Homo sapiens: one gene and its partners. The main gene of each other region encodes a partner of the protein of the gene in region 4 in a complex. Each region holds a gene or a part of one and is shown on either strand. Other genes may lie near its edges. The genes, in order: GTF2H5, POLR2B, GTF2A1 and GTF2F2.

What was found.
Region 1: GTF2F2 (region 4) and GTF2H5 share a complex: the UniProt entries of both Homo sapiens proteins name them as parts of the TBP-based Pol II pre-initiation complex.
Region 2: GTF2F2 (region 4) and POLR2B share a complex: the UniProt entries of both Homo sapiens proteins name them as parts of the TBP-based Pol II pre-initiation complex.
Region 3: GTF2F2 (region 4) and GTF2A1 share a complex: the UniProt entries of both Homo sapiens proteins name them as parts of the TBP-based Pol II pre-initiation complex.

What each region holds. Positions count from the first base shown.
Region 1 is NC_000006.12:158,171,094-158,178,523, reverse strand, and holds part of GTF2H5 (general transcription factor IIH subunit 5), read right to left. Parts: intron 1-7,430. UniProt on the Homo sapiens protein: Component of the general transcription and DNA repair factor IIH (TFIIH) core complex, which is involved in general and transcription-coupled nucleotide excision repair (NER) of damaged DNA and, when complexed to CAK, in RNA transcription by RNA polymerase II.
Region 2 is NC_000004.12:56,974,285-56,982,324, reverse strand, and holds the start of POLR2B (DNA-directed RNA polymerase II subunit RPB2), read right to left. Parts: upstream 3,430-8,040; 5' UTR 3,340-3,429; coding exon 3,321-3,339; intron 1-3,320. Other genes in the region: NOA1 (nitric oxide-associated protein 1), read left to right, coding at 4,740-5,883. UniProt on the Homo sapiens protein: Catalytic core component of RNA polymerase II (Pol II), a DNA-dependent RNA polymerase which synthesizes mRNA precursors and many functional non-coding RNAs using the four ribonucleoside triphosphates as substrates.
Region 3 is NC_000014.9:81,196,739-81,204,168, forward strand, and holds part of GTF2A1 (transcription initiation factor IIA subunit 1), read right to left. Parts: intron 7,367-7,430; coding exon 7,162-7,366; intron 6,097-7,161; exon of another isoform or gene 5,957-6,096; intron 4,921-5,956; coding exon 4,856-4,920; intron 747-4,855; coding exon 671-746; intron 1-670. UniProt on the Homo sapiens protein: TFIIA is a component of the transcription machinery of RNA polymerase II and plays an important role in transcriptional activation. TFIIA in a complex with TBP mediates transcriptional activity.
Region 4 is NC_000013.11:45,263,204-45,270,633, reverse strand, and holds part of GTF2F2 (general transcription factor IIF subunit 2), read right to left. Parts: intron 3,402-7,430; coding exon 3,258-3,401; intron 1-3,257. UniProt on the Homo sapiens protein: TFIIF is a general transcription initiation factor that binds to RNA polymerase II and helps to recruit it to the initiation complex in collaboration with TFIIB.

The DNA of each region.
Region 1 (7,430 bases), on a different chromosome or scaffold from region 4:
TCAGGAAACAACAGATGCTGGAGAGGTTGTGGAAAAATAGGAATGCTTTTTTTTTTTTTTTTTTTTTGAGATGGAGTCTCGCTCTGTCTCCCAGGCTGGAGTGCAGTGGCACAATCTTGGCTCACTGCAAGCTCCACCTCCTGGGTTCATGCCATTCTCCTGCCTCAGCCTCCTGAGTAGCCACCATGCCTGGCTAATTTTAATAGAGACGGGGTTTCACCGTGTTAGACAGGATGGTCTCGATCTCCTGACCTCGTGATCCGCCTGTCTTGGCCTCCCAAAGTGCTGGGATTACAGGGATTACAGGTGTGAGCCACCGCGCCCAGCCAGGAATGCTTTTACAATGTTGGTGGGAGTTCAACCATTGTGGAAGACAGCGTGGCGATTCCTTAAGGATCTAGAACTAGAAATACCATTTGACCCAGCAATCCCATTACTGGGCATATTCCCAGAGGATTATAAATCATTCTATGATAAAGACACATGCACATGTATGTTTATTGTGGCACTATTCACAATAGCTAAGACTTGGAACCAACCCAAATGTCCATCAATGATAGACTGGATTAAGAAAATGTGGCACATATACACCACGGAATACTATGCAGTCATAAAAAAGGATGAGTTCATGTCCTTTGTAGGGACATGGATGAAGCTGGAAACCATCATTTTCAGCAAACTATCACAAGATCAGAAAACCAAACACTGCATGTTCTCGCTCATAAGTGGGAGGTGAACAATGAGAACACATGGACACAGGGAGGCGATCATCACACACCAGGGCCTGTGGGGTGTTGGGGTCTAGGGGAGGGATAACATTAGGAGAAATACCTAGTGTAGGTGACGGGTAGATGGGTGCAGCAAACTACCATGGCACATGTATACCTATGTAACAAAACTGTACGTTCTGCACATTTAACCCAGAACTTAAAGTATGATAACCACTGCAACCACAGATGCTGACCACATACTGTACCCTTCATGTGCTTTACCCAGCGCAGCCTGCATACCTTATCCCTGATGTCAATTCCCATGCTTTGCCTAATCAAAAAGTCCCCATCAGCTTTTTTGGGGGTCAGCCGCAGAGTTCTTACTACTGTACTGTCTCCCTTGCATTTGTGGATAAACCCTGAAATAAAAGCCTCATCTGGGAAAACTGTATAGCTCTGTGTTAATTTTTATTACATAGGGAGCCAAAGAGCCTGTGATCTGTAACAGCAATGTTAGTACCATAGCTACACTGCAAAGTTGATGGACTACAGAATATTTCTAAAACATCTTGCTCATAGTAGGTACTCAAATGAGCAATTAAAATGCCAAGACCATGTGAGAGGATATAGGCAGAGAGGTTTAAATTACAATTAGTTCTATCCCTATCAAATGATTTACTGTTGGGAACAGGCACCCCAAAATCTGGCCATAAACTGGCCCCAAAACTAGCCATAAACAAAATCTCTGAAGCACTGTGACATGTTCATGATGGCCATGACACCCACGCTGGAAGGCTGTGGGTTTACTGGAATGAGGGCAAGGAACACCTGGCCCACCCAGGGCGGAAAACCGCTTAAAGGCTTTCTTAAACCACAAACAATAGCGTGAGTGATCTGTGCCTTAAGGACATGCTCCTGCTGCAGATAACTAGCCCAACCCATCCCTTTATTTTGGCCCATCCCTTTGTTTCCCATAAGGAATACTTTTAGGTAATCTATAATCTATAATCTATAGAAACAATGCTCATCCCTGGCTTGCTGTTAACAAATAAGTGGGTAAATCTCTGTTCGGGGCTCTCGGCTCTGAAGGCTGTGAGACCCCTGATTTCTCACCCCACACCTCTATATTTCTGTGTGTCTGTCTTTAATTCCTCTAGCGCTGCTGGGTTAGGGTCTCCCAGACCGAGCTGGTCTCGGCAATTTACTATTTCAATTACAAAACCATTAACCTATGAATATATATGGTATAATTCTAAGACATACGTATATCCTTTTAAAAAGCAAACATAGGCTGGGCGCAATGGCTCACATCTGTAATCCCAGCATTTTGGGAGGCCGAGGTGGGTGGATCACGAGGTCAGGAGTTCAAGACCAGCCTGGCCAAGATAGTGAAACCCCATCTCTACTAAAACTTCAAAAATTAGCCAGGCATGGTGGCAGGCACCTGTAATCCCAACTACTTGGGAGGCTGAAGCAGGAGAATCGTTTGAACCCAGGTGGCAGAGGCTGCAGTGAGCCAAGATTGTGCCACTGCACTCCAGGCTGGGTGACAGTGAGACTCCGTTTCAAAAAAAAAACAAAAGCAAACACAATATTATACTTAGTTTTATAATGGAGAGATAGTATATGTAACGTTTAGTAGCCTGGGCTCTGGAGCCAGAATACCGGGATTTAAAATCCCAGTTTAACAATAGCTATGTAACTGAGCAATTGATTAATTGATACAAAGTATCTCACTTTGTACATCCATAAATGGAGATGACAGCACTTACCTCAAAGGGCTGTTGTGAAAACTAAATTAATATTAGCAAGTGCTTAGTATAGCACATGTCACATGGAAAACAGCGTTAGTACAGGAATCCAGGTGTTTTCACTTAACATCATTGTACAGTGTCATTTCCCTGAATCACTTAAAATGTCTGCAAATATTTTAACAGCTATATTATTTGATTAAAATATGCCACAATCAACAAATTTCTTTTTCTAGCACATTAAATACATACATTTTTATTGGCAGTTCTGATCATTTCCTAAAATTTTTTTTTTTTTTGAAATGGGGTCTCACTGTGTTGCTCAGGCTGGAGTGCAGTGGCATGATCTTGGCTCACTGCAACCTCTGCCTCTTGGGTTCAAGTGATTCTCCTGCCTCAGCCTCCCCAGTAGCTGGGATTACAGGCGTCCACCACCATGCCCAGCTAATTTTTGTATTTTTAGTAGAGACAGGGTTTTACCATGTTGGCCAGGCTGGTCTCAAACTCCTGACCTCAAGCCATCCACCCGCCTCAGCCTCCTGAAGTGTTGGGATTACAGGCGTGAGCCACTGCACCCAGCGATTTCCTAAAGATAAACTTATAGAAACGGAGTTATTGTGTTAAAGGATATAAAAGCACAAAACACCCATCACAAGTTGCTTACAGTTGTTTCTTGGGATTACACTTCCATCAGCAGCTTGGTGGGGTGCTTGCTTTTTAAAAGCTATGACTGGAAGACAACAGCCTCCTCATTTAAAAGCTATTTTGATATACAACATGCTAAAAGGAGGCCTAGTATACACATCTGTTTCAAACTAAAACTTTAATTTATCAAGAATCCCATCTTATTCACTGTGAATCTCACTGTAGGAATAGAGAGGCTCTAAAGGAACATTAATAAATTTGGGATTTTGGCTGAGATCACAAACCTGGACTCAATTCTGTTAACAAAATTTATTCAGTACACAAATATTTACTAAGCCATATCTATATATGTGTATGTGTGTGTGTGTGTATACACACACACACACACACACACACACACACACACATCTCAGGCACAGTTTTGGGTGCCTGGAAAACTTCAGCGAACATGGCCCTACTAAGAGGCAAAGGCTGAGAAAAGATTTATACATGCTGAGAAAAAAACAGAACAATGGTTAGACTGGTTTTGCCATACTTCTTACTTCGCTTCTCATAAACGATATAGCTTTAGAAGCCAAACTCATAAGGATAAGTGTAGTTTAATAATACATATTTCTCCAGATTCTTTGCTATTGTGATGTAAACTGGTTGGAATTTGCACCTTGGCAACAAATCTTTGCTGAAGCACTTGCCAAACCAATTGTGGCAACTGTTATACCAGAGGTCTGCTCCAGCATCTGGAACTGGACACAGACATACTGTGGTCATGTGTTGCTTGCTTTGGTAATTGCTTGGTGGCTAGATTTGGGAGAATACTTAGTGTGAGCCTGGCAATTGATGGTGGATCCCAACAAAGAGGAAATTTTCACCAACCTTTCAGTTTTGACATAAAAGTGCAAATTTATAAACATAAAACTTCTTTTATAGCCTTCAATTTTAGTATTTGATAAGCCCTTGGGAGTTAAGATTATATCCAAGTGCCCTGATTTTTCAATTCTCTGAAGGTGAGAATAAATGGCCATCATCATAATTTGGTTTACTTCTTTAGCAAATCTCTGCAGACTCAAAATCAGTTAAACTTAACTGATAGAAATGGAGTTTAAATATGGCAGTTAAGTGAAGCCAATCTAAGATATATGTGGATCAGCACTATATAAGCTATTACACATCAGTTTCTATTAATACAATGATGGGACTGGAATTTGGAGAGATTCCTGGGACAGTGGAAGCAGCTGTGAGATAGGAATTCAGCAGGACTAGTTTCCAAGACAAGAGAGACAGTAAACAACAGGTCAGAAGACCCCACCGATAAGCGAGGATACAGTAAAGAAACCAGCCAGAACCAAGATGGCAACAAAAGCAACCTTCACCACTATCATACACAAATCATAATGCATGCGCACGCTAAAAACCACCCCCACCAGCACCACGACAGTTTACAAATGCCATGGCAATATCTAGAAGTTACCCCGTATGGTCTGGACTGGGGACTCCTGGTTCCACAGAATCCCTGCCTCTTTTCCAGAAAACTCACGAATAATCCACCCCTTGTTTAACATATACTCAAGAAATGGCCATAAAATAGCCAGTTAGCAGGCCCGCCTGCTTCCCACCCTCCCCACTCCACTCTGCCTATGGGGTAGCCACCCTTTTATTCCCTCATTTTTAATAAACTTGCTTTCACTTTACTCTGTGGCTCATTCTTGAATTCTTTCCTGCATGAAGCCAAAAACCAACTTGGCTTCCAGGGCTGAGCCTCAATTTTGGTATTCACCTGCAACAGCTGTAGAAGATCCTTGAGTGGTCTGCCTGTAAACTCCAGACCTATCAAATTCCATACTCCAATACACCTAAATGCTTCATACAATCCATGGATATTATGAAGTAATAAACAGACTTATACTGATAATCATATTATTAACAGGCTTCTCCTTGGCATCAAATATGGACATGAGGGAAACTGAAGGACTTTTCCAGTTACCATCCTAACATCTGCATCTAACTGTGAAAGGGAATCCACTAGCACTGGCCATACCCTTTCCTTTGGGAATCTATGTTATTTCTTAGGCCCAAAATCTTTTTGGAAGACTTGTGTTTTTGGGAAGACAGAGTTACCCTTTTGAAAAATTGTGCAGACTACACTTTAGAATTCACTTCAAAGGGAAAAATTAGTTTTGCAAGGATGGTACCTAACCTGCAAAATAAAATTTAATAGTCCTGGTGCAAAACACTTCTCCACAGGGAAACATTATTAAACTGAAGCTGATTAACAGTATTATTGCTTCTCAAAATTTAAATGCATCTTAACAAGATTCTTTGTATGCACAATTCTGATTTAGTAGATTTAGGGTGAGGTCTGAGATTTTGCATTTCTAACAAGCTCCAGATGATGCTATTACTGCTAGTCTGGGGATTACCCTGAAGTGCAAGGTGATGGACAGTCATTAGAGAGACCAGGTAGAATTCAGAGGTTAGATACGGGACAGCAAACCGGGCACTGAGACTTCAGAGTCTCCCCAGAGTTTTGTTCTTTAAGATGCAATCCAGTCATCTTTTTTTTCAAATTAAAACGTAGGTTTAATGCAATTCCAACCAATATGCCAAAAGGATTATTTTGGAAACAGACTAAGTTATTTCAAGGTTATTCTAGAATAGGCAACAAGAAAGATGAATGTGGGAAGGGATGAAAGAGAATAGCAAGGGGAGTAAAATTATGTGATTAAGGAGGCATCAAGCATCATTAAGAAAGGAAATAATGGTGGAGAACTAGATATTTGGCAAAATGAACAGACAAAAACACCCAAAACAAAAAAGAAGCTAGGCTGGGTGCAGTGGCTCATGCCTGTAATCCCAGCACTTTGGGAGGCCGGGGCAGGTGGATCATGAGGTCAAGAGATCGAGACCAGCCTGGCCAACATGGTGAAACCCCATTTCTACTAAAAATACAAAAATAAAATTAGCCGGGTGTGGTGGTGTGTGCCTGTAATCCCAGCTACTCGGGCAGCTGAGGCAGCAGTATCGCTTGAATCCAGGAGCCAAGATCGCGCCACTGCACTCCAACCTGGCAACAGAGCAAGACTCCGTGTCAAAAAAAAAAAAAAGAAGCTAATTTAGATCCTTATCTAATAATATGTCTCTTCTCTGAATAAATTCTAGATGAATGAATCTAACACACCAAGAAAAACACAAAATCCCCACAAGAGAGAAGTGAATATTTAACAAACCTATGCCACTCCTCCCAATAAATTCTAGATGAATGAATCTAAAACACCAAGAAAAACACAAAACCCTCAGAAGAGAGAAGTGAATATTTAACAAACCCAGGGGTGAAGATTAAACTTAGAATTGGAAGAAACGAGGGAAAAAAAGTGATAGCTGACACTCTGTGTATGTGTATCCTCTGTATTTAAAAATAACACTAAAGGCCAACGAGGAAAATGTTTATGTTATGTCAAATTAATAGGAAAATAAGTACATCAAACCTAGTGCCTTCAAAAGACAACAGAACAGTGTGTTTAGAACTTCTGGGGTCCAGATCCCACCCCCTTTGCTTTTCCAAGTGAATACCTCTCCCCCGCAGTGGTTTACTCTCATCAACGTACATTCTAGTCTTTCACATTAAAATAAAAATAGCAAGAACCTGAGCCCCTCACCATGTCCTTCGTCAGCTACCAATCCAGTTCTCTATGAGATTGCTCATGATCACAGTAAAACTTCTCCGAAGTCTCCATCTCCACCTCCTCACCTCCCTTTCCTTTTCCACAGTACTTCAATCTGGCATCTCCCCACCACTCCATTCAAATGGCTCTCATCAAAACTCCAGTCTTCATCTCATGCCAGTTCTCAATCAGTGCCCAACACAGCCGCTCATCCCTACAAAACACTTCCTCCTTTGGCTTTCCTCCCTCCAGCCTCACTGGCTATTTTCTTCTTAGTTGCCTTTGTTGGTGTCTCCTGTATCAAAACTCCAAATCTGCACTATGCATAAGGTAGCCCACTAGTCAGGTCACTACAGAGTCCTTGAAACACGGTTAGTCTGTGAGATGTGCTGTAAAATTAAAATATCCATTCGACTTTGAAGATGAAGATTTTTTTGAAGACTTAGTATGTGTTCAAAGCATAGTGTTTTGCATAGACAGGGTTAAACAAAAGATATTAACTTCACCTGTTTCATTTTACGTTACTTTTAAGATGGCTAGAAAAAATGTAAGACTATATCTGTGGCTTGCATTAGATTTCTATTGGCTAGTGCTGTTCTAAATGTTGGCAGTGTCCTAGGGTTTGGTCTTGCTCCTCCTTAGCCTTGCCATCACAGTAAACAGTA
Region 2 (8,040 bases), on a different chromosome or scaffold from region 4:
AATTGAATATACAGATGTGAAACCTACAGATACAGAGGGCCAAATGTGCCCTTCACCGAGACAGAGAAGACAGGAGGCAGTGGCTTTGGGAGGGGAATAGCAAAAGAAAATAATTAGCTCAGTTTGGGCAGTTGACAAGGTTAAGCAGCCTGGGAGATATCCTAGTTGGCTAGTGGCAGTTAGATACCCCAGATTTTAAACTAGAAGTATACACATTCAGAAGTTATCCGCATACAGATGGTAACTGAAACAATGGAAAATGGATGAGATCACCCAAGGAGAATGTGAACAGGAAAGAAAATGAGAAAAGTCAGATAAGAAAAATCAAGTGAAAGTGATGTCGCTAGAAAGCTGAGTGAGTTTCCGGGAAGATGTCATCAACAGTTTTGAAGACCACAGGGTTTAGATAAGTTTTAAATATCCATCTCATTTATCAATTGAGAAGTCGCTGTCAATCTTAGAGCTATCTTAATGTAGTAGCATGAGTAGAAACATATTGTAATCAGTTGAAAAGCACATGAAAGATGAAAATTAGAAACAAGGACAGCTTATTATTTTTATAAGTTTGGCTGTGAGTGAAAGAAGAAAGGTAAAATACTAGAAGAAAAAGGTAACAATGAAAAGAATTTAACTTGTTTCCATGTGGATGACAGAAATCTGACATTTTCACATAGTGACTGAAAACTGATGAGGACGTTATCTAATAAACATTTCAGAGGACATGGGCAATAAAATGTAGGTTCACTGCTAAAGCAACCCTGATAAACTCTTTTTCCACAGGATCATTATACATTGCTAATAAGAATGCAAAATTAGTACAATCACCACTATGGTGGTCACTTGGCATCATCTAGCAAAATGTTAAACGTGCATATCATTTGACCTGACAATTTTATATGTAGAAATGTATCCCACAGACATACTTGGGCAAATTATACGTACAAGATTATTCATTTACAGCACTGTTTGAACCCGAAAATGACTAGAAATAAACCGAATATCCATCAAGAGACTACTTAAGTTATGGTACATCCACACAAACTAAGTAACTGGGGGTGGGGACACGGGAGGGGGGGCGCGATGCTTTCTGTGTACTGATACGAAAATCTCCTGGACACATTAAACAAAATCTAAAAGTGGAGAAAAGTGTGAATATTACTGTCTTTAAAAAAAGAGAAAATCCCATTTATATTTGCTTAAATATGCATAAGGAAACTGTGGAGGCTGGGCTTGGAGGTTCACACCTGCAATCCCAGCACTTTCGGAGGCCGAGGCAGGTGAATCACCTGAGGTCAGGAGTTTGAGATCAGCCTGGCCAACGTGGAGAAACCATCTCTACTAAAAATACTAAAATTAGCTGGGCACGGTGGTGTACGCCTGTAATCTCAGCTACTCGGGAGGCTGAGGCAGGAGAACTGCTTGAACCTGGGAGATGGAGGTTACAGTGAGCCGAGATTGCGCCACCACACTCAAGCCTGGGCAACAGAGCAAGACCATCAAAAAAAAAAAAAGAAACTGTGGAGTGATAAGAACCTCTTATAACTGTTATAACTGTAGTTACCCACTGTGGAGAGTTCAAACTGGGCAGATGGTGGGTAAGAAGGAGACGTGACACTTTAACTTGTTTTTTTTGAGACAAGGTCTCACTTTGTTCTCAGCTCATAGCAGTGTCAACTTCCCAGGCTCAAGCGATCCTCCAGCCTCAGCCCCACAAGTAGCTGGGACTATAGGTGAGCAAGACCACGCCCAGCTAATTTTTCTATTTCTTATAGAGAGGGGTCTCCCATGTTGCCCAGGCTGCTCTCGAACTCCTGAGCTCAAGTAATCCACCCGCCTCAGACTCCCAAAATGCTGGGATAACAGGCGTGAGCCACTGCACCAGCCACCCCACTTTAACATTTTTAAATTTTCTGGCTTGTGAGCTATGAGAATATATTACCCAGCCAAAAATTATGCTTTAAAAATCTTTTTTTTCGAATTTTTCTTCTACTGAGATAGTAGTTAAAAAAGAACAAGGAATATAATGATGCTAATAAATTTCTACAACACAAGATATAAATGAGACAGAAGTTTAAACAGCTTTAAAAGTTTAAGCTTTTGGCTGGGCACATTGGCTCATGCTTGTAATCCCAGCACTTTGGGAGGCCGAGACAGGCAGATGGTTTGACCTCAGGAGTTTGAGACCAGCCTGGGCAACATGGCCAGACCCCATCTCTTAAAAAAAAAAAAAAAAAATTAAGCTTTTGCTTCAATTTTTTCCATCTGATTTATCAGAAGTACCTGAGGGAATAGAGAGAGGAGATGTAGGGGGTGGCCAAGGAATTGAGAGCTATAAGAAAATAAGGTTTGAATTAGCAGATATGGAGAATGGAAAAGGCGGCTACGAAAATACACTAGACTCAACTAAGAATTTTTTTTTTTTTTTTTTGAGACAGTCTAACTCTGTCACTCAGGCTGTGGTGTAGTGGTGCGATCTCAGCTCACTGCAAACTCCGCCTCCTGGGCTCAAGCGATCGTCCGGCCTCAGCCTCCCGAGTAGCTGGGATTACAGGCGCACGCCATCACACTAGGCTAATTTTTGTATTTTTAGTAGATACAGGATTTCCCCATGTTTGTCAGGTTGGTCTCAAGCGATCTGCACATCTCGGCCTCCCAAAGTGCTGACGGGAGCCACCGCGCTCGGCCACTACTAAGAATTCCATATGCGCAAACAAACAGGTATTATACATTGGCCCAGTGCAGCAGAATACATATCATCTGAGAACTGTGACATTGTGAGAAGAGGAAGTTAAAAGTCATCCTTTAAGACAATTTACTTTGACTTACAAACAGTATGAAGAAATGTCAGACTAAACCGAGTCCCCCCCGCCACCCCCACCCCCCGATATTCTCTGTCCCGGAATATTTCCAGGACCTTCCACACTGCCTGACACAGGCTGACACTCAACAATTGAGCTATTCGTTAAGTCGACTGTGGCTTTAAGGAAAATTTTTAAAGGGTGCCCTTTGCTTCAAATTCAAAACGTAATTTATCTTACGATTCTGCACGCTACTTCACCACAGGAAACGAGGATCAGATCTAACGGAACGAGAAAGTGCAGAGAGCAGCAGTGAACGTAACCTGGAACATTAACACTATGTTCCCTGCACCCTCCGCCTCTCCCTACCCCAGTTTCGTTCCCGGCCTGGTAAGTGTGGGAACAAGGCTGGGGACTGTGCAGCCGGCGCATGGGAAGGCCCCAAATCCTCAATCCAATCAGTTCCCAACGCTTTCCTGCTTAAATGGACCGCCACGGCGTGTGTTTTGAGCGTTCACCTACCCTCATCCGCGTCGTACATATTGCCAAACGGTTCTCGAGCTCCTAACTCTTGAAATCAAAAGACAAAAACCGCCCAGAAGCCAGCAGCGCCAGGAGCTAAAGACGAAGTAACTTCCGTCTCCGACGTTCCCAGAATACCACGCGTCTCACACCAAAGGCCGCCCACAGGGACGCCAAAGTTAGGATCTGCGCCTGCGCAAATTGTAGGTCAAGCTTGGGCCGGGGTTAGGGTTGCACACGCGTAAATTGTGGGCCGCCGCTGCCGGGCTGATTGAGAGGACAGCTCCCGCAATCTGCGGTCGTATCCGTTCCGTCAATGTTTTATTTCTGCTTGTTTTTCAATGTTGTTGCACAAATAACGACACCTGAAAACAAAACCAGGTATACTTATTATTAAAAAGTGTTCGTCCTGTGAATCCGCAACATTGGGATGCTCAATTTATTTGCCTTTATAAGGACCAAAACACGAAGCTATTTTTTATTTTTATTTATTTATTATTTTTTGAAATGGAGTCTCGCTCTGTCGCCCAGGCTGGAGTGCAGTGGAGCGATCTCGGCTCACTGCAACCTCCGTCTCCCGGGTTCAAGCGATTCTCCTGCCTCGGCCTCCCAAATAGCTGGGATTACAGGCAAGGGTCACCACGCCCGGGTAATTTTTGTATTTTTAGTAGAGACGGGGTTTCACCACGTTGGCCAGGCTGGTCTCGAACTGCTGACCTCAGGTGATCCACCCGCCTCGGCCTCCCAAAGTGCTGGGATTACAGGCGTGAGCCACGCGCCCGGCCGGAAGCTCCTTTCTGTTTTTGTTTTGTTTTGTTTTTTTGAGACAGGCTCGCTCTGTCGCCCAGGCTGGAGTGCAGTGGCGCGATCTCGGCTCACTGCAACCTCCGCCTCCCGCGTTCAAGCCATTCTCCTGCCTCAGCCTCCCGAGTAGCTGGGACTACAGGCGCCCGCCACCACGCCTGGCTAATTTTTTGTATTTTTAGCAGAGATGGGGGTTTCACCGTGTAAGCCAGGATGGTCTCGATCTCCTGACCTCATGATCCGCCCGCCTCGGCCTCCCAAATTGCTGGGATTACAGGCGTGAGCCACCGCGCCCGACCCCGGAAGCTCCTTTTTAAGTGTGATTTATTAAGGGCGGCTTGTGCTAGCAGTGAGGCGTTAAGCCTGAAAGTGAAAAAACCCAAAACACTCACTGCTCTTTTCTGCCCACCTAGCTCAATCCTCCAGTGCCTTTGCCATAGCTTTAAGTAGGTTCTCAGTCTCAGAGCTTAAATCGCGAGAACTGACGGGATTAGACGCAAAACCAACCAGGACAGCTCCCAAGTACCCACGCGCTTTCGTCTCGGGTCAAATGCGCGCCTCGGACCCTAGTGCGCGTGCGCGCTGGTGGCTCCGCCCCTTTGGAGCTACTTCCTCATGCTGCCCGCTCGCCTACCGTTCAGGCTGCTGAGCCTTTTCCTTCGTGGATCCGCTCCCACGGCAGCGCGCCATGGCCTCCGGGAGCCGCTCCTGGAGAGGAGGTGCGCTGCCGCCTCCTCCTTCCAGCACTCATCGAGTCTGGGACGCGAGCTTCCTTATGACCCCGTGGACACGGAGGGCTTTGGAGAAGGTGGTGACATGCAGGAGCGTTTTCTGTTCCCGGAGTACATCCTGGATCCGGAGCCGCAACCCACCCGCGAAAAGCAGCTGCAGGAGCTCCAGCAACAGCAGGAGGAGGAGGAGCGACAGAGGCAGCAGCGGCGGGAGGAGCGGCGACAGCAAAACCTACGGGCCAGGTCCCGGGAGCACCCGGTCGTGGGGCACCCGGACCCGGCATTGCCGCCCAGCGGCGTGAACTGCTCGGGCTGTGGGGCAGAGCTGCACTGCCAGGACGCCGGAGTGCCCGGCTACCTGCCCCGAGAGAAGTTCCTCCGCACGGCGGAGGCAGACGGCGGGCTGGCACGGACCGTGTGCCAGCGCTGCTGGCTGCTGTCGCACCACCGGCGCGCTCTACGCCTGCAGGTGAGCCGCGAGCAGTACCTGGAGCTGGTGAGCGCCGCGTTGCGGCGGCCCGGCCCCTCCCTGGTGCTCTACATGGTGGACCTGCTGGACCTGCCCGACGCCCTGCTGCCCGACTTGCCCGCGCTGGTGGGCCCCAAGCAGCTGATCGTGCTGGGAAACAAAGTGGACCTCCTGCCCCAGGATGCTCCTGGCTACCGGCAGAGGCTGCGGGAGCGACTGTGGGAGGACTGTGCCCGCGCCGGGCTCCTGCTGGCCCCTGGCCACCAAGGGCCACAGCGCCCCGTCAAGGACGAGCCACAGGACGGGGAGAATCCGAATCCGCCGAACTGGTCCCGCACAGTGGTCAGGGACGTGCGGCTGATCAGCGCCAAGACCGGCTATGGAGTGGAAGAGTTGATCTCTGCCCTTCAGCGCTCCTGGCGCTACCGTGGGGACGTCTACTTAGTGGGCGCCACCAACGCCGGCAAATCCACTCTCTTTAACACGCTCCTGGAGTCCGATTACTGCACTGCCAAGGGCTCCGAGGCCATCGACAGAGCCACCATCTCCCCTTGGCCAGGTGAGTTTTAGGAGGCTCGCCCTCTTCGTTTCCTGGCAAGGTGGACGTCTGGTCCTGGCCGAGGCACCGAGTACATCCTCCCTTAATGTCCACTGCGGGCTGCCTGTACCCTTCCCTTTACAAATTCTCTCCCCACTCTGGTCACACCTCTCTTCTGTGTCAGCTTACTGCTAGGGAAAATTGAGGATGTGTTGTAGTAATTTTCAATGGAAGTGTTTATGGAGCACGTCTCTGTTCCCAGTCACTAAGCACTGGAGATAGACCAGGGAACAAAGCAAAGTTCCTGTTCTGGAGATTTGCTTTGTAACTTCTTTGTATATTGTTCCAGAAAGTGTGCGTCCTTTTTACTGTCTGAACCTAATGAACTTTGTGTTTTGTTTGTTTGTTTTGTTTTGGAGACAGAGTCTCACTCTGTCGCCCAGGCTGGAGTGCAGTGGCGTGATCTCGGCTCACTGCAACCTCCGCCTCCCGGGTTCAAGTGATTCTCCTGCCTCAGCCTCCCTAGTAGCTGGGATTCGAGGCATGCGCCACCACACCAAGCTAATTTTTGTGTTTGTTTTGTTTTGTTTTTTGAGACGGAGTCTTGTCTTGCTCTGTTGCCCAGGCTAGAGTGCAGTGGCTCACTGTAACCTCCGCCTCCCGGGTTCCAGTGATTCTCCTCCCTCAGCCTCCTGAGTAGCTGGGATTACAGGCGCACGCCACTATGCCCAGCTAATTTTTATATTTTTAGTAGAGACGGGGTTTCACTATGTTGGTCAGGCTGGTCTCAAACCCCTGACCTCGTGATCCGCCCGCCTCAGCATCCCAAAGTGCTGGGATTACAGGTGTGAGCCACCGCGCTTGGCCTAATTTTTGTATTTTCAGTAGAGATGGGGTTTCACCTTGTTGGCCAGGCTGGTCTGGAACTCTTGGCCTCCCAAAGCGCTGGGATTACAGGCAAGCACCACCATGCCCAGCTAATTTTTGTATCTTTGGTAGAGACAGGGTTTCAACATGTTGGCCAGGCAGGTCTCCAACTCCTGACCTCACGTGATCTGCCCACCTCGTCCTCCCAAAGTGCTGGGATTACAGGTGTGAGCCACTGCTCCCAGCCCATTAGTGCAATTTGATGTGTGGCTTTGCCGGGCTCAGTGGCTCACATCTGTAATTCTAGCACTTTGGGAGGCCAAGGTGGGCAGATTGCTTGAGCTCAGGAGTTCAGGACCAGCCTGGGCAACATGGTGAAACCCTGTCTCTACTAAAGATACAAAAATTAGTCAGGCTGGTGGTGCGTGCCTGTAGTCCCAGCTACTCAGGAGGTTGAGGTGGGAGAATCACCTGAGCCTGGAAGGTTGAGGTGGCAGTGAGCCCTAATTGGGCCACTGCACTCCAATCCAGCCTGGACAACAGAGACCCAAAAAAACAGAAGTATCAGTCTTGTGACTTTAAGAAACTTCTGTGGCCAGGTGCAGTGGGTCACACCTGTAATCCGAGCACTTTGGGAGGCCAAGGTGGGCAGATCACCTGAGGTCAGGAGTTCCAGACCAGACCTGCCCACATGGTGAAACTCCCATGTCTACTAAAAATACAAAACTTAGCCGGGTTTGGTAGCTGGTGCCTGTAATCCCAGCTACTCAGGAGGCTGAGGGTGAAGAATCGCTTGAACCTGGGAGGCTGAGCCAAGATCACACCACTGCACTCCAGCCTGGGCAACAGAGCAAGACGCTGTCTCAAAAACAAGAAAGAAAGAAACAAACTTCTGTAATTAGAAAATGAGTCCTTCTATGGTTTAAATTTTTTTTTTTTTTTTTGAGACAGAGGCTCACTCTGTCGCCCAGGTTGGAGTGCAGTGGTGCGATCTCGCCTCACGGCAACCCTCACCTCCCAGGTTCAAGCGATTCTCCTGCCTCAGCCTCCCAAATAGCTGGACTACAAGTGTGCACCACCACACCCAGCTAATTTTTTGTATTTTTAGTAGAGACAGGGTTTCACCATGTTGGCAAGGCAGGTCTCGAACTCCTGACCTCAAGTGATCCACCCGCCTGGGCCTCCCAAAGTGCTGGGATTACAGGTGTGAGCCACTACGCTCAGCCAGGCTTAAATTTAAGTTGACAAAACTGACTGCCCCATTTGTTCCCTTGAAACCAAAGTTTCATTTAGTAAGCTGCTCTTCTCTGT
Region 3 (7,430 bases), on a different chromosome or scaffold from region 4:
ACAGAATCAAATTCCCCCAATATGTTCCTTTAGACAACCCAGAATCTTGAATTGATTAAAAAGCAAATTACATCTTATTAAAATATGTAGCAAGACAAGCCCCTAATTTCACAAATTTACAAATTAACAAAAATAACATACACAGAATAGAAAATAAATAATAACTATATAATCAAGATTATAGGGAACACTTAAAATCCATGTAAATAAATTTTTCAAGCACCAATATGCCAAAACACATGAGCTAGACATTGGTCTTTTGTCAATGAAGAGATACTATGTATAATAATAGCATACAATAAATTTGCTCTTAATATGCTCTAGGAATTACTTTGATATCACAAGTTCAAAGAAGTTTAATACTCACTTGGCATGTTAAATGTGTTCAGTAAAAAACTAAGTAAGCATTTTTATATAATCATACTTCAATAATAGGGTTATCATGCACAGATCAAAGGTTCAAGTACAATTTTCATCTTCTTTACTGTATCCTCAACAACGATTACAGTTATATGTGTTACAGCCCTCAAATAAAGTTATTTTAATAACCTAAACCAAATGGTAAAAGAAATATTAGTATTTTCTGTCTTTCAAAGAAGACAAAACCTAAGGGCTAGATAGTACAATTTTCTGAATTACATTTTAAAATGGTTCCATCATTCCTAATTACCTGAATTTGTTAATATCTGCTGAACAGGAGTCACACCTGCAGGGAGTGCTAAGGTAGCAGCTGTAGCAGCAGCACTCTGAAAAAAACAAAGAAAAAATATCAAAACCACATACATGTATAATACTGTTTCTCTCTAGCATATTTTAATAGTGTATGAAACTTTTTGTTTAGAATATACCAAAATTTAAAAAATCTAGTAAGGCTAAATCCCATTTTATAAAATGGTACAAGACTGACCAACCTAGCCTCCAACCTACTAAATTATTTTAAGCAGTTAAATACAACAATATAATTGGGTTTTTTCCCCTAGAGAAGGTGCTCTAAGTAAATCTCACAGGTACTGCAGTTTTTTTTTCCTTCTTGTCCCATCAATCTTCTTTAAGGTACCAAGCCTTCCTATACTCAATCTAACCTACACATTTTTAGACAATACCCACATTAACAATGCTGTACAATATATGAAATGGCTATTTCATTATTGCTTCCTTTCCCACTGTTTCCTTATCCCCATTTCCTTGAGATAAAAGTATAATTATCTACTTTTTAGAATTCTTAACTTTTAAAATTTCTACTAAAATCAACAGATATCTATAAAGAACACTGTATCAGAAGACTTCACTGGGAGTACAGCTGACAATTCTTCTAAGATGTCATATTAGCAAAGAAAAAAGGGACATACTGGCATTATATTCTAGGTGAAACATGCATTAATAACAGATTAATACAAAAAATCTGTAAATCTTAAGAAAAGTCACACCAGGCAGACTGGCTCACGCCTGTAATCCCAGCACTTTAGGAGGCCCACGTGGGCAGATCGCTTGAGCTCAGGAGTTTGAGACCAGCCTGGGCAATATGGTGAAATCCCATTTCTACAAAAAATACAAAAATTAGCTGAGCAGGGTGGTGCACACCTGTAGTCCCAGCTACTTGGGAGGGTGAGGTGGGAGGATGGCTTGAACCTGAAGGTGGAGGTTGCAGTGAGCCGAGATTGTGCCACTGCACTCCAGCCTGGGCAATAGTCACAAACTTTAGTTTCAACATTTTGAAATCAAGTTAGTATGTGACACTTAAGTTATAAAGATATAGACGGGATTATATTATGAATTTCTTTAAATCCAGGACAAATTCTTGACTTCCTGGAGAGTTCTGGAGAGTTTTCTCCTCCTGTCCTCCCGCAAAGAATTATGCCATTCTCTGGTTTTTTATTCTGCACTTTAAGTATTTTCCTGTATCCCGCTATAGCTACACATTTTGGTAGTTTTTTCCCTCTCTTTTCAATCTTCTTTAGCTACCAACCATTCATACATTCAATCTAACCTATACAGTTTTAGAACTACCCATATCTGAAAAAGCTTAAAAAAATAAATATAACTGCTTTGGAAATGCTAGTGTCAGAGAAGTCAACAAACTTAGAAAATTATTAAACTGAGTTAATAGTTCAACTACTGTCTAGTCTGGGCTCTAGGTACATAGCTTTCCAAGAAAATACACTTGTTGCCACTTGACAAACCTAAGTAATTTCTACATCTTGGGCCTGAAATTCCCACTGTGTCTCCAGAATTTAACTATAGCCCACCCGGGTGATTCGTATTTAAGTTGGATACTCAATTACCCAATTTAAAATAAAACTTGGCTATATAAGCAAATTAAAGGTTATCTAAGTTTAAGGAAAATATTAACCACCACATACTATTAAGAAATATTTAAAAAGAAAAAAACAAAAATATTTAGAAATATTAAGTGCCTATAATTCATATTTTGAAAGACAGCAATTCTCCCTCTACCAGCAAACTGACATAGTAGTTTCCATATAGAATACACGACCCAATAACTACCTGCACACCCTCCACAAATTCAAGCTGCATAACATATATTTGCTGAGTCATGTACCATACACTAACCACCTTATACTTAATAACTATTAAAATTTCTTCTTGTATTCCACAAAACAGCCCAAACACAAATAATGCATTAGACCAATCATTTCATAAAAAAGAACCGAAAACAATGGTTTTCTAGAAGTTCCCTGAAATAGCCTTCTACTATATTATCTCACGTTTTTATGATTAGTTCATTTCTAATGCAAACAGAGCCATTAGAAAGAACAAATATATTTTTGCTATTTCTAAATCAGAATAATGCAAACCCACAAAAACCTAAAACACTTTTATTGGTACAGAGCCTATACTGATTATGTTCAGAAATACATGAAGGAAACACTGACTAAAAACAACAAAGTAAAATGTAAAATATACAGAAATGTTAAATCAATTTTCCTGAGTAACTGACCTATGATTTGTTTAAATACATATGCTCTTTAGAATAAAGGAGACTTAACCAGTAAGTAAGAGATGGACCACTAATTTTTATCCCAGAAATAACTTACTAATTCAAAATTCTCTTCCACAACATTTAAAATTCTTTTAGAGGGGCCTACCACAAGAGACTCTGCCAAAATTTGTTTTAAAATAATGTGAGTTATTCCCTAGGATATAGTCTTAATAACATCAACTACAATAAGCAACATATAGTGAGACTTTTTTTTTTTTAAGGGTGGAGGTTAAAAAAAATTGGGGCCTTAGACTTAAAATGGAGTTTTTTCCAATAAAAAATCTTGTGAGAAATAACAGGCATGAAATTTTTTATTTTCATGTAAACGAAAAGATTCTAGAAACTGCAACTACAAGTACAAACAGAGATCCTCGATATTTGTGAATTTAAAAACTGCAATTTCTACTATCATGTAGAAACTTTCAATTCTGCCACAGTATGAATTTGTGAGGCTGGTAATGTGTAGGAGGAAGTCATCTGTCTAGTGGGTAAGCCCTTCTTATCTGGCTTATAAACCACAAATGAACTTTGTGATTCAGTATCACTCACAAAGTAGAACTCATCTTTTCATACACTGCTTTTTGGTTTAAAAAAAAACTTGAGGCTGGGCGTGGTGGCTCACACCTGTAATCCTAACACTTCAGGAGGCCGAGGTGGGCAGATCGCTTGAGGTGAGGAGTTGGGCGACCAGCCTGGCCAACATGGTGAAACCCTGTCTCTACTAAAAGTACAAAAAAATTAGCCAGGTGTGGTGACATACACCTGTACTCCCAGCTACTCAGGAGGCTGAGGTGGGAGGATCACTTGAACCTAGGAGGCGGAGGTTGCAGTTAGCCAAGATCACACCACTGCACTCCAGCCTGGGTGACAGGGTAAGACTCCATCTTCAAAAAAAAAAAAAAACTTGAACGGAGGGAAAAAAAAATCTCATTTCTAGTACTAACTAGTTACATAGGTTAAAAGATCTTTTTACAAATATTGATTCTTTCACCTTTAAATAAAAGTTTTGGCTGAAGAATGAAATGTAAGAGCTGAGTCACCACTCAATGAAATCAACAGTCTGTATATTTTAAACAGAATAAAGAAAAACCATTTATAAGGAAGTATTGAACTACTCTAATCTGACTATATTTTAATGTTTTATCCAAAAAAAAAAAAAAAACAAAAAACAACTTCAAGGATATAGGTAAAGATTTTCTAAGGATCTGAAGAGGTTCTTTCAAGTTTACAGTTAACCTATACTACATTTGTTGAGAAATATTATATGTCTGAAATGTAATTTGAAAATATGAGTGAGGACTTGTAAAGTTTAGTGGATAGTCCTCAGAAATATAAAAATTCTAATATAACTCAGCTGGTTAAAATGTATTCTGTGGTAATTTACACACTATAATGACTTATTAGACTATACTATGGTTAAGTCAGAGTAATATTTTTAAATGCTTGATTTTAAAAATAGTTATACTGAACTATCCAGTCTATCTTCATTTTTTAAAAGTTCACAATTCTTAGCCTTCCCACCCTCTTGCAATTACTAGGTCTCCTGAAACAGAACCATACTTGGCATTATAAGCTTGGTAGGTACCCTAAAACTTTTTCGGAAATAGTAGGGAATGGAATAACTCTCACAAAGCACCATTCTTTTGGTATTCTTAAACAATTCCGTAATTTTATGAACCTTAATGTCTAGGTACCAAGCTAAACTTCAGATCCAATATTCAGGAAACTAAAACAGCTGTTTTGCTTGAGTCTTCAATAAACTTCAAGTAGTTAATATAGGACATATATAGGCATAATTACAATGTGGGTTAGAATTAAGTACAGCCAATCAAACTGCTACATTCTGAGTCTTACCATGTTTGATGCATTCATATGCTGTATCAACTTAGAATCTGGAACAATAACTTGTGGTGCTGTGGCTACAAAAAAACAAGCGAACATGCAAACAAGGAACCATGAGGCTATTTTATAATCACAAGAACACTTTACATACAATGATGAAAACTTTTTTCATGTTTTTCATGTTTTCTGCACTCAAATGCTTTCAATCATTTCATCTCAGGACATTATAAATGTATATGGCAAATAACAGCTGTGATATACCCACCCTATACTAGAAAACATTAAAAAATATTTAAGCCCAGGCGTGGTGGCTCACACCTGTAATTACAGCACTTTGGGAGGCCAAGGCGGGTGGATCACTTGAGGTCAGGAGTTCAAGACCAGACTGGCCAATATGGTGAAACCCCATCTCTACTAAAAATACAAAAAAATTAGTTGGGTGTCAGGCTGAGGCATGAGAATCACTTGAACTCCGGAACTGGAGGTTGCAGTAAGCTGAGATCACGCCACTGCACTCTAACATGGGTGACAAGGTTCCATATCAAAAAAAAAAAATTAAGTGGCAATTCCTAAGGATGCAAGGGAATTTAGGAACATGAAGTAGTGAGTTACCTTAACATCTAAACATAAATAGTTCTATGCATTCTTAAGTAAACTGGACATTTTCAAACATAATTTTGTCTTAACTCAAGGTTAACTGTTTTACTGATACAATGATACCACTGTTACAATGAGTTACTAATCCAATAAAAGTAAGCTCAAAAAGTTGTGACTAGTTTTTGAAATCTACATAGTCCTTTTCTTCCAAATATGACAGCTGACAGACTCATGCCACTTTCATCAGCTGTTTAAAAAATACAAATCAGCCGGGTGCAGGGATGCATGCCTGTAGTCCCAGCAACTCAGGAGGCTAAGGTGGGAGGATCACTTGAGCCCAGGAGTTCTGGGCTGTATGTGCTATGCTGATCAGGTGTCCAAATAAGTTCGGCATCAATATGGTGGCCTCCTGAAAGCAGGGGACCACCAGGTTGCCTGAAGAGTGGTAAACCGGCAAAAGTCGGAAAAAATACAAATCAGAAATAATGGCAATGTTACTTAAGCGTAAAAGGAATTACATGTTTGATTCCGCAAATTTCAGAGAACAGATAACTCCATTATCCTAATATTCTCTGAGTGAAGAAAATCAAATTTTAATTTATGATGACCTAAAATCCTAATGCCAGGTCTGAAGGCAACAGGAAGAACAGTCATCAAAAAAGAATAAAAGGATAAAATTATTTGATACAAAGTACACATTAAAATTAGGTATGAAAAGTACCACTAGATATCAACAGTAAAATAACCCAAATACTCTTCTACTGTGTGTCATTACCAATTTTAAGACACATATATATACTGTCAAATGAGGCAAATGAGTAACTAAATGATATTAAAATGAACTTTTCATTTACTTCTAGTGTCCTCTCCCATAAAAGCAGATGCACTGAATTAGAATGCTCAGGAAGTTTTATAACTGAATAGATGTTTGTCATGAGAGAAAATACAGATCAAGTTTCTTAGCCTTTTCTGGGCTCAGATTTTCCTCAGCTGTAAAACTGAGCCAAGGGCTATTTTACAAAGCCCTTATAAGATGCCAGTGAAACAGTATCTATAAAATGACTTGCAGAGTACAAGGCACTATGGACACAGTCTATGAATATTTGCTTTTTCTTAGCTTTAATCCAAGTAATATAAATTAAGATATGTTATATATCCACTCTTAACTTAAAATAAATCTAATTCAGTCCATTTAGGCTTACATAAATTCCTATGGAGCTGAATTTTCAGATTGCCAAAGTATACAAAAAACTCCAGAATGTAAGATATATTTTAAAAACTAATCTGAAACATGTCTTTGAAAGAACATGTTTTATAGAGAAAGCAAATAACTATTGTACCATATAAAATAATAAATCCCTTAGTAAATAAACCTTTTAGATTTAACTTAGGAAATCCATCACTATATAGCCTTTTCAAAACAAAATATTAATATAACTTCTCTGAATATCTTAGGCTTTCAATTAGTAAATTACTTGTCTACCATTACTCTACAGATACAACCTACATTGTATACAAATTTATATACATTTACATACACATCCCTCAGCCAAGAGAAAGGGGGGAAAAAGCCCGAAATCAACAGAGGGGTTTTTGTTTATTTTTAGGTTCTCCATGTGCCCCTTAAAAGACAAGATCCAAAAAATGCAGAATATTTCTCTTCTTTCATAATGACAAACTTAATTTCCAAGTCATAAGTAGGAAAACAAGTCCAGTCTCACCTTGCTGTGATGCAGGAATAAGAACCTGCTGGGTCTGCGCTTGCTGAGGTACTGTCTGCTGAGGCTGAGCTTGCTGATGATGGTGATGGTGGTGATGCTGCTGCTGCTGGGGTTGATGCTGCTGTTGAACTTGCAGTAGAAGCTGCTGCTCTTCTGAATGAAATCCATCTACTGCCCTGGACTGCATTAGTTTGTTTTCCCATAACTAAGGCAAAGAACATTAAAGATTTCTAAGTGAAAAATAACTCTGGACAGATGAATACAACAGT
Region 4 (7,430 bases):
AAACTTAATTCTCAATGTGGCAGTAGTAAGAATTGGGCCTTTGAGAGGTGACTAGGTCATGGGGGTTCTGCCCATTCATAGATTAATGGGTTATCATGGGAGTGAAATTGGTGGCTTTATAAAAAGAGGGAGAGGAAGAGAGACCTGAGCTAGCACGCTCAGCCTCCTCACTAAGCGATGTAAAAAGCCTCTTACCAGACGTGGCCCTTTGATCCTGGACTTCTCAGCCTCCAAAATTTTAAGAAACAAATTATTTTGCTTTAAAAATTGCCCAGCTTCAGGTATTCTGTTATAAGTAACAAAAAACAGACTAAGATAATATATCTTTAAATGGATACTATGTCCCCGACTTTATATCAGTTACCAAAGCTTGGCCTCCTTGATGAGTAACTTTCACTCTTTCTAGTTGCTTATGTAAGTCACATACTGGCAAACAAGAGAAAAAGACGGGCCCTAAGCAAAGTTTCTCTAGCCAATAATTTTACTTATAGAAATGAAGGTTTTGGCCAGGAACGGTAGCTCACGTGTAATCTCAGCACTTCGGGAGGCTGAGGCATGTAGATCACCTGAGGTCAGGAGTTCAAGACCAGCCTTGTCAACATGGTGAAACCTCATCTCTACTAAAAATCCAAAAATTAGCCAGGTGTGGTGGTGGGCGCCTATAATCCCAGCTACTCAGGAGGCTGAGGCAGGAGAATCGCTTGAACTCGGGAGGTGGAGGTTGCAGTGAGCAGAGATTGTGCCATTGCACTCCAGCCTGGGCAACAAGAGCAAAACTCCATCTCAAAAACAAACAAACAAAACACCCCACCCCCAAAATAAATTATAATTTGAACATATTGGTAAATTTTATATTATTACATATGTTAAGTGAACTAAATATAAGTAATGTATTAAATGTATTTAAGTACCTTGTCCAGGACTATTTGGCTAAATGGTAGAGCTGGGACTTGAACTAGGATCTCATACTCCAAATCCAGGTTCTTTCCATTATACCAGAACACCCCCTTTCCTGGACCATTGATCTTCATGCTAGAATAGATTCCTCAAGTCTCTTGGGTACTGATGACCATTAGTACAGATTCACTTATGTCCTCGAATCCTTTTAAAGGGGGATAGTTGCCTACTTGGGGGAGAGCTAGACTTTGGCAACTTTCTTTCCCAGTCAATGGACTGGAATCCATGCTGACCACTTCCTGCCCTCTCCTCTAGGAGGAGGTAACTACCTCTGGCCTACCCCCAGCCTGGGGAAGGCATTCCACACTTTCTTGGCACTGGCTCTTTGCCCCAACCTCACTATAAATGACGTGAGAGGCCTGCCAAAATCCATCTGAAGAAAATATGGTGGCCCTTGGAGACTGAGGATTTTCTTTTTTCAAATCAATTCATGAGATATTTGCTGAATTTTTACCATCTTTTACACTATGGGGTATATGAATATTTAGGGATAGGAATAGCATACAACTCTGCCTTCAGGAATCTTATGCTTATTGAGGCAATTTAGTCTCTAAATAATAAAACTATTATTTAAAAAGTTAGTTTTGAGATCAGCGGCTTCTATGAGAATCTGATACAAACTATGGATGATATGTTCCCCAGAACAATTCATACATTTTTGCAGATTTTCAGGAAGTTAATGGATCCCCTTAAGTCCATCCACTGGTTAGGAATTAAGAAGCTCTGTTGTAAGAGATTCACTGAGTACTACCATATAAAAAATATCTTAAGAACCAAAACCAAAAGACACACTAGTAATACTTGTTCTTTGATGCAAAATGAATAAACCTTATATCCCATGTGAAGGCAAAGAAACTGCTTTCCCTAGTATCATCTGAATGCCCCTCTACAAGTGATTATTTTCCATATCTAATTTTTTGTGTTTAATTCCATGAGAATCTCGTCTGTTTTCAGAGTTTCTGGAAGGGTCTTTTCATACAGATATATTTATATATATAAATACAAAGATAAATTTCATTAAAACCAGAAGAAACACAGCTTAGCTAATGAGTTATTTATTCTATTTCAAAAAAAATTTTTAATCTAGCTTAGAATGCTGTTTCTAAGGCTTTGATGCCAAAGGGAGTGAAGTCATTGGGATGAATTGATAATACTCCACCATGAGCACTTTCTTCTTATTAAAAAGTAAATCTTTTGGAATTCAAATTAATTTCTTAACAAAAGGCAAGGGTTGATGTATAATAGTAAAGAAATATCTGCAGGAGAAACTGTATAATGAACATTAAAATTTCATAAATCATTTCCTAAAGCTTTGTATAAATAAAAAAAATCAAGTCCTTTCACAAATAGGTTATTTGGTTATGTTAAGATGTTTTTTAAAATTGGTTATTGTTACATATTCTGAATCCAATAAATGGAGCAGCAAGAATCAACAGATTCTTGAGTATACCGGCAGAGTAGACAAAATGGTAAAGGAAATGAGATAAAAGGGTTTCCATTCAATTTTCTTAAACCTATAAGTAAATACTCAGTCTGATACTTTGGTGACATGTGGTGGAGAAAGTTAAATGGAAAACAATGTGACTCAAAGACTAGAAAAAGAATTTGAATTTCTTATTGTTATCATCATTTTAAATGGATTATTAATGCAAATTACTAGTAAATGCACAAAAGCCTAGAGAAGAGATAAAAATGACTATAAAACAAACATAAACTTTCTAAAATACGAATTTGTTAAATTTGTCCTTAAAAATGGGGAACAGGCCAACCTAATCACAATCTCTGCAAGCATAATTTGAAAGTGCAGTTCAGTTCAGGTTTAAAAGGACCTACACAGATTCTAATTAAAAAAAAAAAAAAAAAAAATCCACAGAAAACAATTCACAAGACAGGGATAAACCCTCCCACAATGACAAAACAGTATAATTCTTTAAAGAATGCGATTTTTCTATGAGGCATGTTTTCCAAAAAAAGGGAAGGAGTTAAACTTTCTCAGAGGAAGATAGGGAAACAAAATAAAGACCAGAAATGGTATCAACAGATTTCAGGCTTAATGTCAAGAATAAATGAACATGAGGATAATTTCTTTTCTTCATAAATAATTATTAAGAGTACTAAAATGTAAAATAAAAGCTGATGTTACCAAAAATGGCTGCATTAAGACATCTTTTCTGAGTGTTGTCATAAAATTAGTCATTAGCATAGGTAAATGTGAACTAAATCATGTATGACACACTTTCAGTAATGTCGTGTTAATGAAGGAGGGCATATTCAAAGGATCAGTATGAACATATACATACCACAGGTTGCTTTGTGATGTCCACCAAGTCCTTAAGATTATAGTATTGATGTTTCTCAAAGGCTGAAAATAGCATGTCTAAAACATGTTGTTTATCAGCTCGAGCTCGCTTTCCGTCTTCTTTCTTTTTCCTTTCATATTCGATCTATATGCAAACAGCAAAGGAAATAAAAGCATCAATTCAACATGCTCACTCTAAAACACAGGCATTCTCTTTTTTTTTTTTTTGAGACAGAGTTTTGCTCTTGTTGCCCAGGCTGGAGTGCAGTGGCATGATCTCAGCTCACTGCAACCCCCACCTCCTGGGTTCAAGTGATTCTCCTGCCTCAGCCTCCCGAGTAGCTGGGATTACAGGTGCCCGCCACTACGCCTGGCTAATTTTTTGTATTTTTGGTAGAGACGGGGTTTCACCATGTTGGCCAGGCTGGCCTGGAACTCCTGACCTCAGGTGATCCACCTGCCTCAGCCTCCCAAAGTGTCGGGATAACAGGTGTGAGCCACCGTGCTTGCCCAGGCATTCTCTTTTGAGTCATCCATTAACGACTAGATCGTAAGTTTCGAGGCAGCAGGCCTCTGAACAGTAGTTCAGAACCTGGGACCTGTTACTCCTGGGGTCCCCGTATCTTTAAGGCTCTAAGTTAGTAATAATTCCAGTCACTTTCATTATCCCCTAAAGCTTTATGTAATGCATAATGTGTACATTTCCCCCCAAAAAGGCCTTTTGCCAAAACTGTATCAATTCAGTGCGGTTAACTGGTTATCTTGTGTTGATCGAAAACTCTAACGTGTAGTGCTTTTGTTTTTGATTAACAGTAAAACAGTTTATCTAACAGATGCAGTTTCATAGGTAACATCTTTCAAATGTGGGGTTCTTGGAGGCAGGCAGATTATAAAACGGGTTCTTTACGGAGTGAAAAGTTTGGGAAGCATTGGTAAAAAGGAAAGGACATGGACCTTTTCTCATCCTGACCCTGTGCAACCTCCTTGAACCTGTTTCTCTTCCCATACAATAAAAGTTAGTTTAACAAGAGAAAGGGGTAATTATATACTTATCATCTCAGACACAAGCAAACCATTTTTCTGAAATTCCCATTTAAAACTTCATGTGACCTCTAAATTCACCTGTATAATACATCTTTATTTTTTAACATGAAGTAAAAAATACAGTATCTACTATCCAAATAAAAATGACACTTCAGGACCATGTGTTATGTTTATTCTGCAGTTTTGTGTACCTCCATGCATGCCAGCTTAAAAAGCAGTGGCACTAACACAATGAAGAAGTTCCCTCCTACTGTTACCATCCTGGGACTGTTCAATTGTAAAACATCACCCTTTTTACTTAAAATATGCAAGTTCTGTTCTATTACTTAGTTAATTGAGATATTTGTTTGTTTCTTTTTAGGAACACTTCACTTGTATAAACCATCAGAAACTTGTTGAAGGGGCCAACCTGGTGAAGAAAGCATCAGTAGGTTGGGTGGAAACTGCCAGAGAAGAATGTCCTGTGGGTCAGCTGGAATAATTATAATCTGGGGACTAGCTTCGAAAACAATGGGATACATTTAAAAACTTACAAATAAATTATTCCACAAATAGCCTCAGGTAGTTAGCTTACTCTATTTTAACAATAAAGATTTGTTATAAAAGGATAAAATTTAGTTTCTATTGATTTATTGATATTAAAACTAAAAATATGTCTTATGAGAGACTGTCAAATTAGTGGTAAAAGGTAACTGAAAACCTTGAGTATCTACTTTTCAATTAAATAAAGTTGGGAGTGAGACAAAGGGAAAGGACTCAATCATCTTCATTTTTTGATATGTACGAACTGGGAGTAAAACTCAAACTCCACTGAGCTTCAGCAGATTAAGCATGACTATATGCTAGGCATTGCGCTAAGATATGGGGAGAGTAAGACAGCTTTTTCTTTCTAAAACGGCTTTAAATGGATTAAAATGATTAGAGAGGGGAGGGCCTTGAGCATTTTAAATGCAGTAATGGACAAAGAGCTACCTAGGACAAGATCACCATGCTTAAAAAAAATGCAAATGAATGACACAGATTGTATTGTTAGGGAAGACTGAAATCCAGCCAGTCTCAATTTTTTTTTTTTTTTGAAATGGTGTCTCACTCTATTGCCCAGGCTGGAGTGCAGTGGTGCAATCTCGGCTCACCACAACCTCCACCTCCTGGGTTCAAGTGATTTTCCTGCCTCAGCCTCCCGAGTAGCTGGGATTACAGGTGCGCACCACCATGCCCAGCTAATTTTTGTATTTTTAGTAGAGACAGGGTTTCACTATGTTGGCCAGGCTGGTCTCGAACTCCTAACCTCGTGATCCGCCCGCCTCGGCCTCCCAAAGTGCTAGGATTACAGGCGTGAGCCACCACGCCTGGCCTCAGTCTCAAGTTAAATTCAGGAAATAGCAGAGAAGTGATGGTATACTCAGTTTCCACCTTCAGTAGGCTGTTTCTTGTGTAAAATGATTGGAGAAGCTAGGAAGTTTAACATGAAAAATGTTTTCAAATAAGCCCACTGGTAAAGTAAGATAACCTACTTTACAGAGGGCGCACATTCTAGTTGGCTGTGGAGAGAAAACTTAAGTGTTGTTATCAAGTTGTCCCAACCCAGAGTCACATGTCAGATGCAAGAGGACCTGAATCAAAGGTAAAAATTAATAAATTAGAAAAGAACTTTAAAATCAACACTAGGGATAAGAGTAAGGGTCGGATTAAGTTGTAATTAGTAACATTAATGAGTAGTAAGAAAATTACCGAATTCTACCCAGATTTTTCAAAAATCATGGGGCCAGGCGCAGTGGCTCACGCCTGTAATCCCAGCAACTTTGGGAGGACAAAGTGGGCGGATCATTTGAGGTCAGGAGTTCAAGACCAGCACGGCCAAGTCTCTGCTAAAAATACAAAAAAATTAGCTGGGCGTGGTGGCACACGCCTGTATCTCCAGCTACTAGGGAGGCTGAGGCAGCAGAATCGCTTGAAGCCAGGAGACAGAGGTTGCAGTGAGCCAAGATCGTGCCACTACACTCCACTCTCAGCAACAGAGTGACTCTGTCTCAAAAAAATAAAAAAATAAAAAAATAAAAATAAAAAATAAAAAATAAAAAAAAAATCTTGGTTTACATGCTTCAATCTCAAATTGAAGTTAATGTTGGTGCTTTCTCTTTAAAATTAGAAAAACAGACTAAAAATATATGCTTATCTTTCTGTGTTAACATGTATATCACTGGTTTAGTTCCTGGGGGCACTGCAGCCTACCTCTACATTTGCCTAGTGAACAAAAACTGTTTTTTTTCTTCCTGTCCGAAATATTTGTTAATTGTTTACTTATCAAGACGAACTCTTTCTCAGCCTAGATATTCGTGTTTCATAGTTCACGAACACAAGTCAGTGACAAACTTCCATGTGATTCAATCCAAGCAAATTCTTTATATTCCCAAACCACTTTGCACTCTGAAAGATACCAGCCTTCCTCATCTCCTCAATATCTTTCATGGAATCCTAATTTCTGAAGAAATCTGCATATGCCTTATTTCTTGCTTCAGCACAGCAAACTTACAGAGAGCTGCAACCCCCAGGGATGCAATGAATGCTCCAACAACATAAAACCTCAGATGCATGGCGTTTGGTTTCATCAAAGCACTGGAAACCATGGTAGTTATTGTCCTTGACAGGCATATGTCAATCTTAAGTAATGAGATTCAGAAAATAAAATTAACTATATAGTTTATTCGAGCCCAAAGCTTGAGGATAGCCACCTGGAAGCATAGTTTCAAGGTATCCTGACTACATAATCTGTAGTAAACAAAAACTCTTAAAAATGTTGTCTGTAAGCCAGGTGCGGTGGCTCACGCCTGTAATCCCAGCACTTTGGGAGGCCGAGGTGGGCAGATCACGAGGTCAGGAGATCAAGACCATCCTGGCTAACATGGTGAAACCCTGTCTCTACTAAAAATACAAAAAATTAGCCGGGCATGGTGGCGGGCGCCTGAAGTCTCAGCTACTCGGGAGGCTGAGGCAGGAGAATGGTGTGAACCTTGGGAGGCGGAGCTTGCAGTGAGCCGAGATCGCGCCACTGCACTCTAGCCTGGGTGACAGAGTGAGACTCCGTCTCAAAAAAAAAAAAAATTTAGTCTGAAAACCCAGACATACAAAA